Linked DNA regions of Homo sapiens. The protein of the gene in region 1 interacts with the protein of each later gene in a pairwise test. Each region holds a gene or a part of one and is shown in the gene's direction. Other genes may lie near its edges. The genes, in order: BAZ2B, APIP and RASGEF1B.

Region 1 (3,751 bases):
GAATGCAGAGCATGGAAAACTCAGGATTAAATTATGCATTTGAACCTTAGGCCAGTTTTTACTGTAGAGACAGTTTGCTGCTAAAAGAGAAATTGTATGTCATTGAAATTAAATGCTTTTCTGGGGATGGAAGATTCCAGTTTTTAATGAAATTACTGAGTGTGGTGTAGTGAAATGATTAAAATCTGTATTCCGGGAATGTGGCAGGGAAAAAAAATCAATAAGTGCTAGCACAGCTTTGCTGCTCAATGTGAATCCTGAGAATGAAATAAACTACTACAAAAATAATAATTAAAAACATATCAGCACATTAATTTATTTAGCATCAGTCTCCTGAGACATCATCTTCACTAATTTTTAGCATACATTTTACTCTGTAATGAGCAGCCTTCTTTTCAGATATCCCTATTAGACAGGCAGTATTTCTGCCCTTCCCCCAGTGCTCCTGCATTGCAATCATTGTACTTGCACTTATTATGTTACAAATGACCGAGGTAAGGCTGACATTCTCAGTGCATGCAAAAAGACCGAGTCTGCCAAGCTTTTTTTTTTTCCTAATGAAGCAGCTTTGTGAAATCTCCCCATGTGTTAATACTAATGAAGATCCTCCAGCACAATTAAAATCACAGCCAGTGGCTGAAGAGGAAACATAAAACAATAGCATCTTTTAAGATACATTTATCCACATATGTATAAAATATACATAGATGATCAAATTATTCTCCGATAGCTTAATTTTTACTTACTCTTCATCCTGAAAATTAAATTATGCAATTTTTAATTATATGAACTTTGAGACTTTCTTGTGTTCTGGAGGGAAAAAACGGTACCTCAACGAACTTCTAAAAAAAAAAATACGTATCTTCTTGGCTAATAAAGTGTTATCAAGATTAAGGCTTTTAAAAAAATTGTTTTTAGGAATCTATAGGATGGGGTGCGGGAGGGAATGGGGCCTATTGTATCTTTAGTTTAACTTGATTGGTTGCAGGATTTGGGAATTGGGGTTGGGGGAGTGGAAGGGTAAAAACAAAGTTGGAAGAGATTCTGGGGGTAGACCATAGCATATGACTGCATTTGTAGTTTAAAGGAGCAAAGGGCTACCAGTCTTACTCATAACTTGATTTTTAAAAAGTGTTCAGTGCCTACAATTTGCTATGCTTTTTTTCTAATCTCTCAGAAACTTGAAAAAAAGCTATCGAGATTACCTTTTACAGTGTGTGCATATAACTTTAAAACGACTATTTTAACGTCTTTTATTTAAATTTTATTTTAACTTAGTGCATAAACATTACAGCCAGTTTAACTTGTCCGTGGAAAGGCAGTAGAATTTTACCCCGGGACCGTCTTGCATACTGCTTTTTTTGAGTTTTAACATCCGCAAAATCTTGGCATATTAATTTAGTTGGGTTGTAGAATTCTGAGTTTAGGAACAAAAAAAATTTAGGTGGAGATGGTTGACCTATGCTCCCTACTCTGTAGCTTTTGTTTTTTTAAAAACTAAGTTTTAAATCCCGTTTTCTGTCCTGTCTTCTTTAAAAGCAAAACAAAACATTTTAAGTTTCTTAACTTTTTCCTGGGACAAGGAACGGTGCAAACTCAAAGCTACAGTATTCTTGGAAAGAAGAAGCAACCCCCTCCCTTGGCTCCTTTAGGAGCTGATAGGTCATTTATTATTGGAACTGAAATGGTATAAACAATTCTCTCTCTTTTTTTCCCTTGTTAACAGCAACTTTCATTGTTAGAGAGAGGAGAGAGAGAGAAGCCTTGTTGGTTGACGTCACTTGGTTCATGAAGCCTTCGCCTAGAAGTGAAGCTGCTGAACAAACCTTGAGAAGAATCATCTCCTGCTTCAATCTGCTGCTGGATAGGAACTAATCAGAGAGAGAGAGGCGGAAGACGGAGAAGGAGGGAGTCGAAGGCTTTCCCGATCACAAATCTCACCTCCACTACAACTCTCTTTATACTTTTCTTGCAGAAATAATAATAGAAATAAGGAGGTGGTGGGGTTTCCAAAAATCTTAACCTTCAACCATCTGGGGAAAAGGCAAAAATCCCATCTACCGCAACTCTCAGTTCGAGAGTAAAGGTGAGTTTAAAATCCTCGGGCGTGAGGGGTGCGGGTGAGGATGTAAATTCCCAGTGTTACAAAGCCGGTGGAAACAGCAGCGGAGAAACTGCGCTCGGGCAAGCGGGGGACTCCGGAGTTGCTGCGTGGAGGCGCTCGCCCCGCCGCCCTCTCGCCCTCCGCCGCTGTTTATCCTCGCCGGTCGGTGCGGCTCTTTGTTGTGGTGGCCGGAAGGCTGGGGTGGTTCTCGGGGTCCCGAGTGGAGTTTGGGGGAGGAGGACACGGAGATGTGCCGTCCTGGGTGGGAGGTGGGGGGTGCGGCCTCAGGAGAACGTAAACTTTATTCCTAGAAGCCGGTGCGGGACTTCGCTGGAGTAGGGCCGTGGGTTGTGCTCCCGGCCGGGCAGGCGCTGCCGCCGCGAGTCCGCCGCCTTTGTGCCGGCCGCCCTGGCTTCGCGTCTCCTTCCTCTTCCCCTTCGGCTTCCAGCGCTCAGGTCGCCGCCAACAGTTTTGCTTCTTAAAAAACAACCTCTGTCAGCGTTGCGATGGCCGTTCCTACCCCGGAATATCCGCTGCTCCCCCACTCCCTGCCGGGGTAGTTTCTGGATCACCCCCCACCCCCGTCCGCCTCCTGCTGCCCTTTTTTGCCTCCGCCCCCTCTTCCCTGTCGGACTGACGAGCTGCGTCTGCCACCCCCACTCCCCGGCTTGGGCCTCTAGCTCTCCCGTGTGTAGCTGGAGGCTCTGAGTTTACTGAAGATGAGCGGGGGTGGGGGTGGGGCAGGTGGGATTGGGAAAAGATCTGGATACCTGGGAAGGTCTATGTCAGCACGCAGAAGGTTTGAGGAGCATTGCTTCTCATACAGTAAGGTCTGTGCCTTGGTCTCATGTTTTAGCAGTTCTTCCCCGGGAACGACCGCCAGCTCCCAACTCCTCTGCTTCCCTCTTTTAATCTTCTTGTCGCTACCCCTCCCCCCAGCCCCCGTTCTCTTTCGCGGCTCCCTCCCCTTTAAGTAGTTTCACGAACCCCAGAATTGGGATTTGAGAAGGGGAAGGAAGTGTTTGAAGAGTCAGAGCTGGCTCTGTTGTTTGGGAGATTTTCTCTTCTTTTCTTTCTCCCTCTGTATTTATCTTTTGTCTGTTGCTTCCTTATAAAGAGGGAAGCAGCTGCAGTCCTTGGCCGAGTTGTTGAAATTTATCCCTTTGTGTATATTACAATATCCTCCATTTTTTTTCCTGCCCTCTAAACAACAAGCGTTTCGCCATCTTGGGCAATTTTATTCCCAAGTCTCTCTCTTTTTTATTTTTGAGGAAAGGAAAGAAGTATTAGGAAGTGTGTCTGGATAAGTCTCAAAGTTTAGGGAATGTTCAGGGGGCCCAGTGACGTCATGTAAACTTTACGGAGAAATTTTCCCAAGAGTAAATTTTTTGCTTAATTTTTCTCCTGTTTTATAGGATTGTGTAACTTACAGGTTACTGATAAGTTGTGTGGCTTATTTTTGTGTTTTGCTCTCAAAATCAGTATACGAAGTCTGCGTATTGTATGTTTTGGTAACAGGTGGAAGATTATATGCAAAAAATGGTAAAAAACTTGTGCGTCATTTGTTATTTATCTGGTTTTTGTGTACTTTTTTTTTTAATTTAAAGGTTTCAACTGTTATCTGTAGTCAGTATATTCCCTTTCTTA
Region 2 (3,751 bases), on another chromosome or scaffold:
GTCTGCAGCTTCACTCCTGAAGTCAGCAAGACCACGAACCCACCAGAAGGAAGAAACTCTGAACATCTGAACGAACAAACTCCGTACACACCATCTTTAAGAACTGTAACACTCACCGCAAGGGTCCGCGGCTTCATTCTTGAAGTCAGTGAGACCAAGAACCCACGGGAAGGAACCAATTCTGGACAAACTAGGACCAGACCTAAAGGGCCTGTTAAGCAAATCTTAGATTTTTAAACTAAGGGCAATGAGATAATCAGCAGGATGACTGAAGAAGGCCTGGGGATTGCTGGCTAGAGTTAAAAAGACCAGAGGCATGGAGACAGACTAGGAAGCCGTGGCAGGCATCCAAGCAAGAGATGCTGTAGGTCTGAGTGAGGGAGTAAAATCAGGAGGTCTTGGTTATTGATTAGATGTGTGTAGTGAGAAAAGAAGTCAAGAATGACTTTTAGGCTTCTGATCTAGTGATTGGGGCCTGGTGGTCCACCAGAAAGAGAATACAGGAGGAAGAAACAGTTTATGATGGGTGTGTTGTGGACATGTTGAGTTTGAGGTACAGCCTCAGCATGTGGTACTATACACTGAGTGTATTTAGCAGGGTTCTCTAGAGGGACAGAACTAATGGAATATATATATAAAGGGAAGTTTATTAAGCATTAACTCACGTGAACCCAAGATCCCGCAATAGGCCGTTTGCAGGCTGAGGAGCGAGGAGAGCCAGTCTGAGTTCCAAAACTGAAGAACTTGGAGTCCAGTGTTCAAGTCGGGAAGCATCCAGCACGGGAGAAAGATGTAGGCTAGGCCAGTCTCCCTTTTCACATTTTTCTGCCTGCTTGTATTCTAGCCATGCTGGCAGCTGATTAGATTGTGCTCATCCAGATTAAGGGTGGGCCTGCCTTTCCCAGCCCACTGACTCAAAATGTTAATCCTCCTTTGGCAGCACCCTCACAGACACACCTAGGATCAATACTTTGTATCCTTCAATCCAGTCAAGTTGACACTCAGTATTAACCATCACACTGGGTATTGCTTTCAAGCTAGGAGAGAGAACTGGATTGGAGATAAAGATTTGGAAGACTTGCTCACCAAAACCTTCGCTCTCAAGACCTGTGTATTTATATTATTCTGTCTTTGATAGACACTCTTTTCTGAACACATATTATAAAAGATATTATATATCTTTTCTGAACACTCTGTAGCCCATTCAATAATTTTTATTATCATTTGCAGTAACATCCCCAAGTGACTTATGTTTCATGTACTTTCTTCTTGTATTCTAAAGATTCTTCAGGCATCAAGTGTATTATTTTCGGGTCAGACTCAGCTTATGACAATAATCTCTGACCTGGTTTTACAGCTCTGAAATTAAATCCCTACTGACTGGCCCTTGAACTGATTTTTTCTAACATCAGCAAAAGTCAAGGAGTGTTTCCCTAAAAAAGAAAGCATTTACTCAGAAACCGTATATTGAAGTCCAGGCTGAAAAATGCAAACATGAGTAAGTTGTTCCTATTTTTCAGAAACTTGGGCAGTTGCAAATGCATATTTATAATTAATATATACCAGTAATGGGCAGTGGGGCATGGGGGGAAAGGATGAAGTTCCATTAGGGGATGACAAAGTATTTTGCAAGTATAGAGGGAGGGGAAGGTCATTTCATACAGTGACTCATGGAAGACTTCATGGAGAATATGGCATTTTAGATTGGCCAGATGGAAACCAAAAAGAAGATACTAGGGCCAGCATATGCCCTGTTTTAAGAGGTAGCACTACACAACACTGATCGTTTTTGCTATGTGGGAGTATTATGGGCCCATTGTTTAGTTTTGCTTTTTTAAGGGAAACTGGAAACTCAGATTTTATATGAAATCTCTTGATTTTAAAATTTAGGCTCAGACTCTTTCTAAGCATTGCGTAGACCAAATAAACAACTTCCTGTGAGCCTGAAGCAGTCCACAAAATACCATAACCTCTGATACAGGACTTTTTTTAATGTAAGAGATATGATGTTAATGCAACCAACGTTTATTGAGCAAAGCACTGTGGTAGGTATAGCTATACCAAGAGCCCATTCTCTGCTTAGTTGCAGAGAAAAACCAGGTAGGGACTACTTCTATTTTTTTAATTTTACCTTAACTATCACAGTGTCCTATATATGTTGACACTGAACAAATATTTTTTCTTTGATATTTCTGCAGCACAAGTACATCCAGTACCTTGCCCTTTTTTTTTCCTTGACCTCATCACTGCTGTTCATCTTTACCGCCCCCTCACTCTAACATCCCATTCCCATGGTCATATCCTTCTCTGCCCAACCCCTACCCTTTTACCATACACTTTTTTGGGTATATTCAACTATATGAATTAGTGTGTCTACAAGTATTCTGGTGTCTTACTGCAGCTGGCCTCTGAGTAGCATGTGACAGTCCTCTGGGGAGTTTCCTTTTACATTCCCCTAAGTAGCTGTTCCAGAACCTCATCATTTCACCTCATCCTTTACCCCACACCTGTTTCAAAGGTGACCTTGCCTCCAAAATCACAAAGAAACTGAAAGCTATTAGGTGTGAACTTCTTAATGTCTTCCTCTTTCCACATGCAGTATAATGTAAAGGTTAAGGACCAGGATCTAGAATCAGACTGCCTGGGTTCAAATTCTGGCTCTGCCTCTTGCTATCTTGGTGGCCTTGGACAAGTTACTTAATCTCTCTTAGTACAATAGGGTTGTTATAAGGATAAAGTAAAGTATTCCATATAAAGGCTTTAGAAAAATGCCTGGCACAAAATAAGCACTCTATAAAGAAATGTTAGCAATTCTTATTATCAGTGGTATTATTACATATTTAATATTACATTGTTAATATTATTACATACTTACCTGCATCTTTACCTTTCCTCCCATTCCTGTTTTTCTAATGCCAGCTTCTCTATCTCGACAAAGGCTGACCTCTTAGACCTCTGCTTTCCTGTATGTTTAATCTTTCCCTGTCTCCTCATGTTACCCGTTAGCATGTAACAGAAAACTGTCTTAATTAACCAGTTTTTCCCTTCTTTTTCCCTGTCTAGCCCTTCTTTATAGCAACACTATTGAAAGAGTCATTAGAACTCCATGCCTCCAAGTTTCATTTACTTCTAAATGAAAGTGAGTGAAGCTCACTGCGATCTTGCTTCCACACCCAGTCTATTGAAACAGTTGTTACTTAAGGTCGTGGTTGACCTAATTTACATATGGAGTTGGCCTAGCCAAACCTTTAGCCAGGATGAACCCTGCCACCCATTTCTTTGGGCTGGCATTGAGCAGCTGAACATTGCTGGAGAATATTGCACAACTTTGTTGTCTGGCCTTGCTTCATGATTTCAACCTCAAATCGTCACTTACTGCTGCCCAACAGCCCATCTTTGTTTCTCTAGTAGTTCGGTGTTCCACTCCCAAAGATGACTGTTTTATACCTTTTATTCTCTTGTCAAGCCTCTCATACCCTGTTGCCATACTCAGCTGATGACTTTGTTTATACTGAAGACAATAGAAGTCATTAGGTAATGAACTTCCTCACCTTCCTACCACAAAACCTACCAATCTGCTGGAATGTGAACCCAGCTTCTCTCATTTCATGAAAGGCAAGAAGCCCAGTTCCTCCACTAGAGCTCAGGATCTCCAAGCCCTCTCACCTTCTATAATTATTTCTCTCCTTCTCCCCGTGTCTCCTATTAGGAATCATTTCCTTTCTGGTAAGACTGTTGTCATCAGCTTTCA
Region 3 (3,751 bases), on another chromosome or scaffold:
GGTGCTGATTCCTTGAAAACAAAATCTGAGTGACCCATGACCGTTTTGTGGGTTGGTGCTTACTGCTAATTAGCCTCTGGCCGGAGAGTACTTGGTGCAGGGGAGTTCCATCCAGCAAGAGTGCAGCGATGTGCCTCATTGCTGGGTCATCTTAGCCTGGTCACCTTACCCCCTTGGGTCTCAGAAGAGGAGATTGGACTAGATTGTGATGGCACATGGGCTGTGGCTCCTTCCATGACTGTCTGACAGTCATTGCTAATCACTTACAACCTACATTCTCCCACTGAGCTACAGCTTCCATATTTTCCTTGCTCATCCTCAGGCCTTTAGACCACCACTTTAATTGATTGCAGTTGGAAAGTGAAAGGAAAGTGAAATGAAATGTTTTCCAGATACTGGGCCAGGTGATTTCTGTGGTTCCTTTGAATATTTATCATTTTCTGATTTTTTGGAATTCCCAAATCCTGGCCAACCATCTCCCAAAAGCACTTTGTTAGAATGGTTGCGCTAGCAATGAGTAAGTGCTCCAATGAAGGAAAATGTGTGGTTCCTGAAAGAAAAAAATCCCAATTCCAAGGGCATGACACTCCTCATGCTGCATGTGAAGGACACTGTGGTTATAAACATCTAAAACTTTTTAAAGCCAGAGGCAACCAAATCCAGACAAAGGGTTCTCTCTCAGTTATCTGAAGGAACTTTTAGGTGCCTCTCATCTCACGTCCCTGCCTCCTCGTTTGAGGGCACTATGAGTTTCTCAGGGCAAGGACAGACTGGCTCTTATTCTTGCCGCCAAGGATGGCCAGTTTGCAACGATTATATTGCACAGGAGTAGTACTCATAGAAACCTGGCAATTTGAGGAGGAAAGAAACATACCTTGTCTATTGCCTTATAAAATGTTAACATTGAATAATTTATTTATTTAACTGCAGTTCCTACATGTGAGGTCTTGCCAACTAAGGGTGTGTGCAGACCATCTGTGTTAATGTTATATCCCATAGTGCCTGACCCTTTGGCTGCTATGACTATGTGCTACCTAAAGGAGAGACATGGGGCCAGTGACCCTAGTAGTGACAAATCTCTGTGAATAGAGTGGTTCTCAGTCATCACCTTCTTCCCATTTGTGGCTTTTTCATGGATCCCGTTAAATTGTCCCTCAACACTGGTTTGTGGAGGGGACAAAGTACTCAGAAATGAAGTTGGTTTTTATCTCCCATTTATTTTTCTTGATGCTTCTTTTATCTAATTCTGTTTTCACCTGCCAGGTTGGCTTTTATGATGGATGTTTTCTCTTAATGCCCCACCCCTGGCCGCCCCCTGCTGAGGCACATGCACAGGATGTGATGCTCTGTGTACCCATCAGCTGTAGCTGGAACAGATGCTCAAGGAGTGATGGATGTGACTTAGACAGGGCTCCACACCCCTCCCACATTGAGATGCAAATATCTTTTGGCATCTTAAAAAGAAAGATTAGTCCAGGTTATGTCCTTCTGCTGCCTCCACACACCCTGTCCCTGTCAGTCCGTAGCTTGGAGTATGGCTCCCCTTCATTGTTTGCCTTCTGAAGCCCCCAGTCTCTGCAGCTCTTCAATGCCTCCATTGTGCAGACGTGGTGCCAGAGACTGGGAGTCTGTTCTCAGGGCCGGGTGCCGTCCCTAGGAATTCAAGTAATAACTTAATAGCCTCTGGCCTCTGCAGAGCACCCTCTGACAAGGCCTTTGTGAACTGCAAAGTACACAGATGGAGAGGAGCAACTTATCTCAGGACTGTCACAGTGCTCCTTGCTCCCAAATCAGGTGTCTTCTCAGCCTGCATGTTTATTGAGAACTGAGGCTTTACAGATACCACCCCACAGCCCCAGGAGAATTTAACACAAAGGGGAGAAAATCAACAGCATCTGATCTTTCAGTGAAAACTGAAGAGTCTACATGAAATCTTGTGTGTACACATATACATATATAAACATGCACAGAGTATACTTCAACTCTAGGCCTACTTTGCAATTTAGTGTTTTCAGCTTCAATTTTGGTTGTCTTCCAGTACTTCAGATAGCTCTTCAGTGTTAGGTAACTTTTCCCAACCAAATTTTAAGGTGTACACATTTCCACCTTAGGAAAATTGTTGACTCCATGCGATAAAGCAATAGAAGTTCAGTTCCCTTGCCCCTTTCACAATCTGATGTGAAGGAGTGACATCTAAATATGACAGCCAGAGACTTGAGTTTAAGTCCAGGTTGGGCCCCTCAGTCTAAGCATTGTATGATATTTGATTGAATGAGAGTGGTACTCAAAAGCATGCATACGTGTCGTACTCAGAGAGCAATTTGGTTCCTGATGGGCTCTGATTCTGTGTCAGAACCTGAACTACTATTTTAATTGCCTATTCTCTCGTTACTATTAAATCTTAGTGCCTATTAAAGCTTACCTTTATTTTCATACTGCATATTGCTGACATTATTTTTTCTTCTTTTTTATTCCTTTTAGGAAAGTATGCCTCAGACTCCTCCCTTTTCAGCAATGTTTGACAGCAGTGGTTACAATCGAAACCTCTATCAGTCTGCAGAGGACAGCTGTGGAGGGTTGTATTACCATGACAACAACCTCCTCTCTGGATCCCTGGAAGCACTCATCCAGCACTTAGTACCTAATGTGGATTACTATCCAGATGTAGGTATTCATGTTTCTCTGAAACACATCCTTGGCAATGAGTAGAAATTGCAGTACAGTAGGCAGGGACCATAGATAATACAGAATTATATCTAGGTTGCTAAGAATTTTTCTAACAAGAAATTGCATATTGATTATCAAGTGCATTGAAATCAAATCGAGCCTGGATAAGGATCAGATTTTGGTATACTATGTGTATCAATTTCTTTTCAGGTTAGTTACAACATTGTAGATGGTCTGATACCATCTAAATGAAGTATCTGTAGAGTTGATTCATGCATATAGCTTAGTCCTTAAATAGAAATGTCAGAGAACATTGGATGCTCCCAGAATATGTAATGCCTTTTTTGTTTCCAAGACCATCACTATGCTAAGAAAAGTGAATGTAACCAAGGAAAGTATATGGAAGAGAAAACAAGATTTATGCTCAAGATGTAATTCTTTATAGATTTGACATCAGATGACATGGTTGCTTTGTTTTACCTTGGTAACCTACATTTATATAGCTAGCACTTTCTAATCTAGGGAATTTGTTGTATATTTTCTCAGTCTTTACAGTAATTCCAAGAGGGAAGAGAGGAGAAAACGATTCAGAGTGTTGAGTATTTGCTGATGGTCCCACTCCCAGCATCAGCAGTCAAACACAGGTTTTCTTTCTGGGACAAGTGACTTTTTCCCCCTTCCCTGTGCTGCAGCTACCTCTATGGAATTGAGCTTAGTAGTAGGAGATTTGCCGAGCAGCTGGTTATTGATAAAGATCTCATGAAAATATCTAGAGACTACATTCATTTGTCTTTATAAATTTAATGATAACCTTGGTGTGCAAAGGATAGTTGGTGCTTGCCGCAGTAATTCACCATAGTGTTTCTTACTGAGTTATCTCTCTGTGTATTGTTACATGGCATTTTCAGATATGTTGCCACACAGGGAAAACTTGTAGTCAAAAGTAAAAGGAATCCCTTGTTCAGCCCTGTGTTTATGAGCTAGTAAAGGCGCCTAAGGAAAAAAGAAAAATCCCATGGAATTTCTCTTTTCATTGGGAGTCTGAAATTATTATAACAAATAAGCACTACTTCATTATTGGCTT

Evidence for each region.
Region 2: the proteins of BAZ2B (region 1) and APIP interact in binary tests that used the Homo sapiens proteins (3 or more experiments, as listed by UniProt).
Region 3: the proteins of BAZ2B (region 1) and RASGEF1B interact in binary tests that used the Homo sapiens proteins (3 or more experiments, as listed by UniProt).

The regions. Positions count from the first base shown.
Region 1 is NC_000002.12:159,614,577-159,618,327, reverse strand, and holds the start of BAZ2B (bromodomain adjacent to zinc finger domain protein 2B), read left to right. Parts: upstream 1-1,779; 5' UTR 1,780-2,086; exon of another isoform or gene 2,087-3,034; intron 3,035-3,751. UniProt on the Homo sapiens protein: Regulatory subunit of the ATP-dependent BRF-1 and BRF-5 ISWI chromatin remodeling complexes, which form ordered nucleosome arrays on chromatin and facilitate access to DNA during DNA-templated processes such as DNA replication, transcription, and repair.
Region 2 is NC_000011.10:34,909,720-34,913,470, reverse strand, and holds part of APIP (methylthioribulose-1-phosphate dehydratase), read left to right. Parts: intron 1-1,357; exon of another isoform or gene 1,358-1,498; intron 1,499-3,751. UniProt on the Homo sapiens protein: Catalyzes the dehydration of methylthioribulose-1-phosphate (MTRu-1-P) into 2,3-diketo-5-methylthiopentyl-1-phosphate (DK-MTP-1-P).
Region 3 is NC_000004.12:81,458,245-81,461,995, reverse strand, and holds part of RASGEF1B (ras-GEF domain-containing family member 1B), read left to right. Parts: intron 1-2,481; 5' UTR 2,482-2,487; coding exon 2,488-2,664; intron 2,665-3,751. UniProt on the Homo sapiens protein: Guanine nucleotide exchange factor (GEF) with specificity for RAP2A, it doesn't seems to activate other Ras family proteins (in vitro).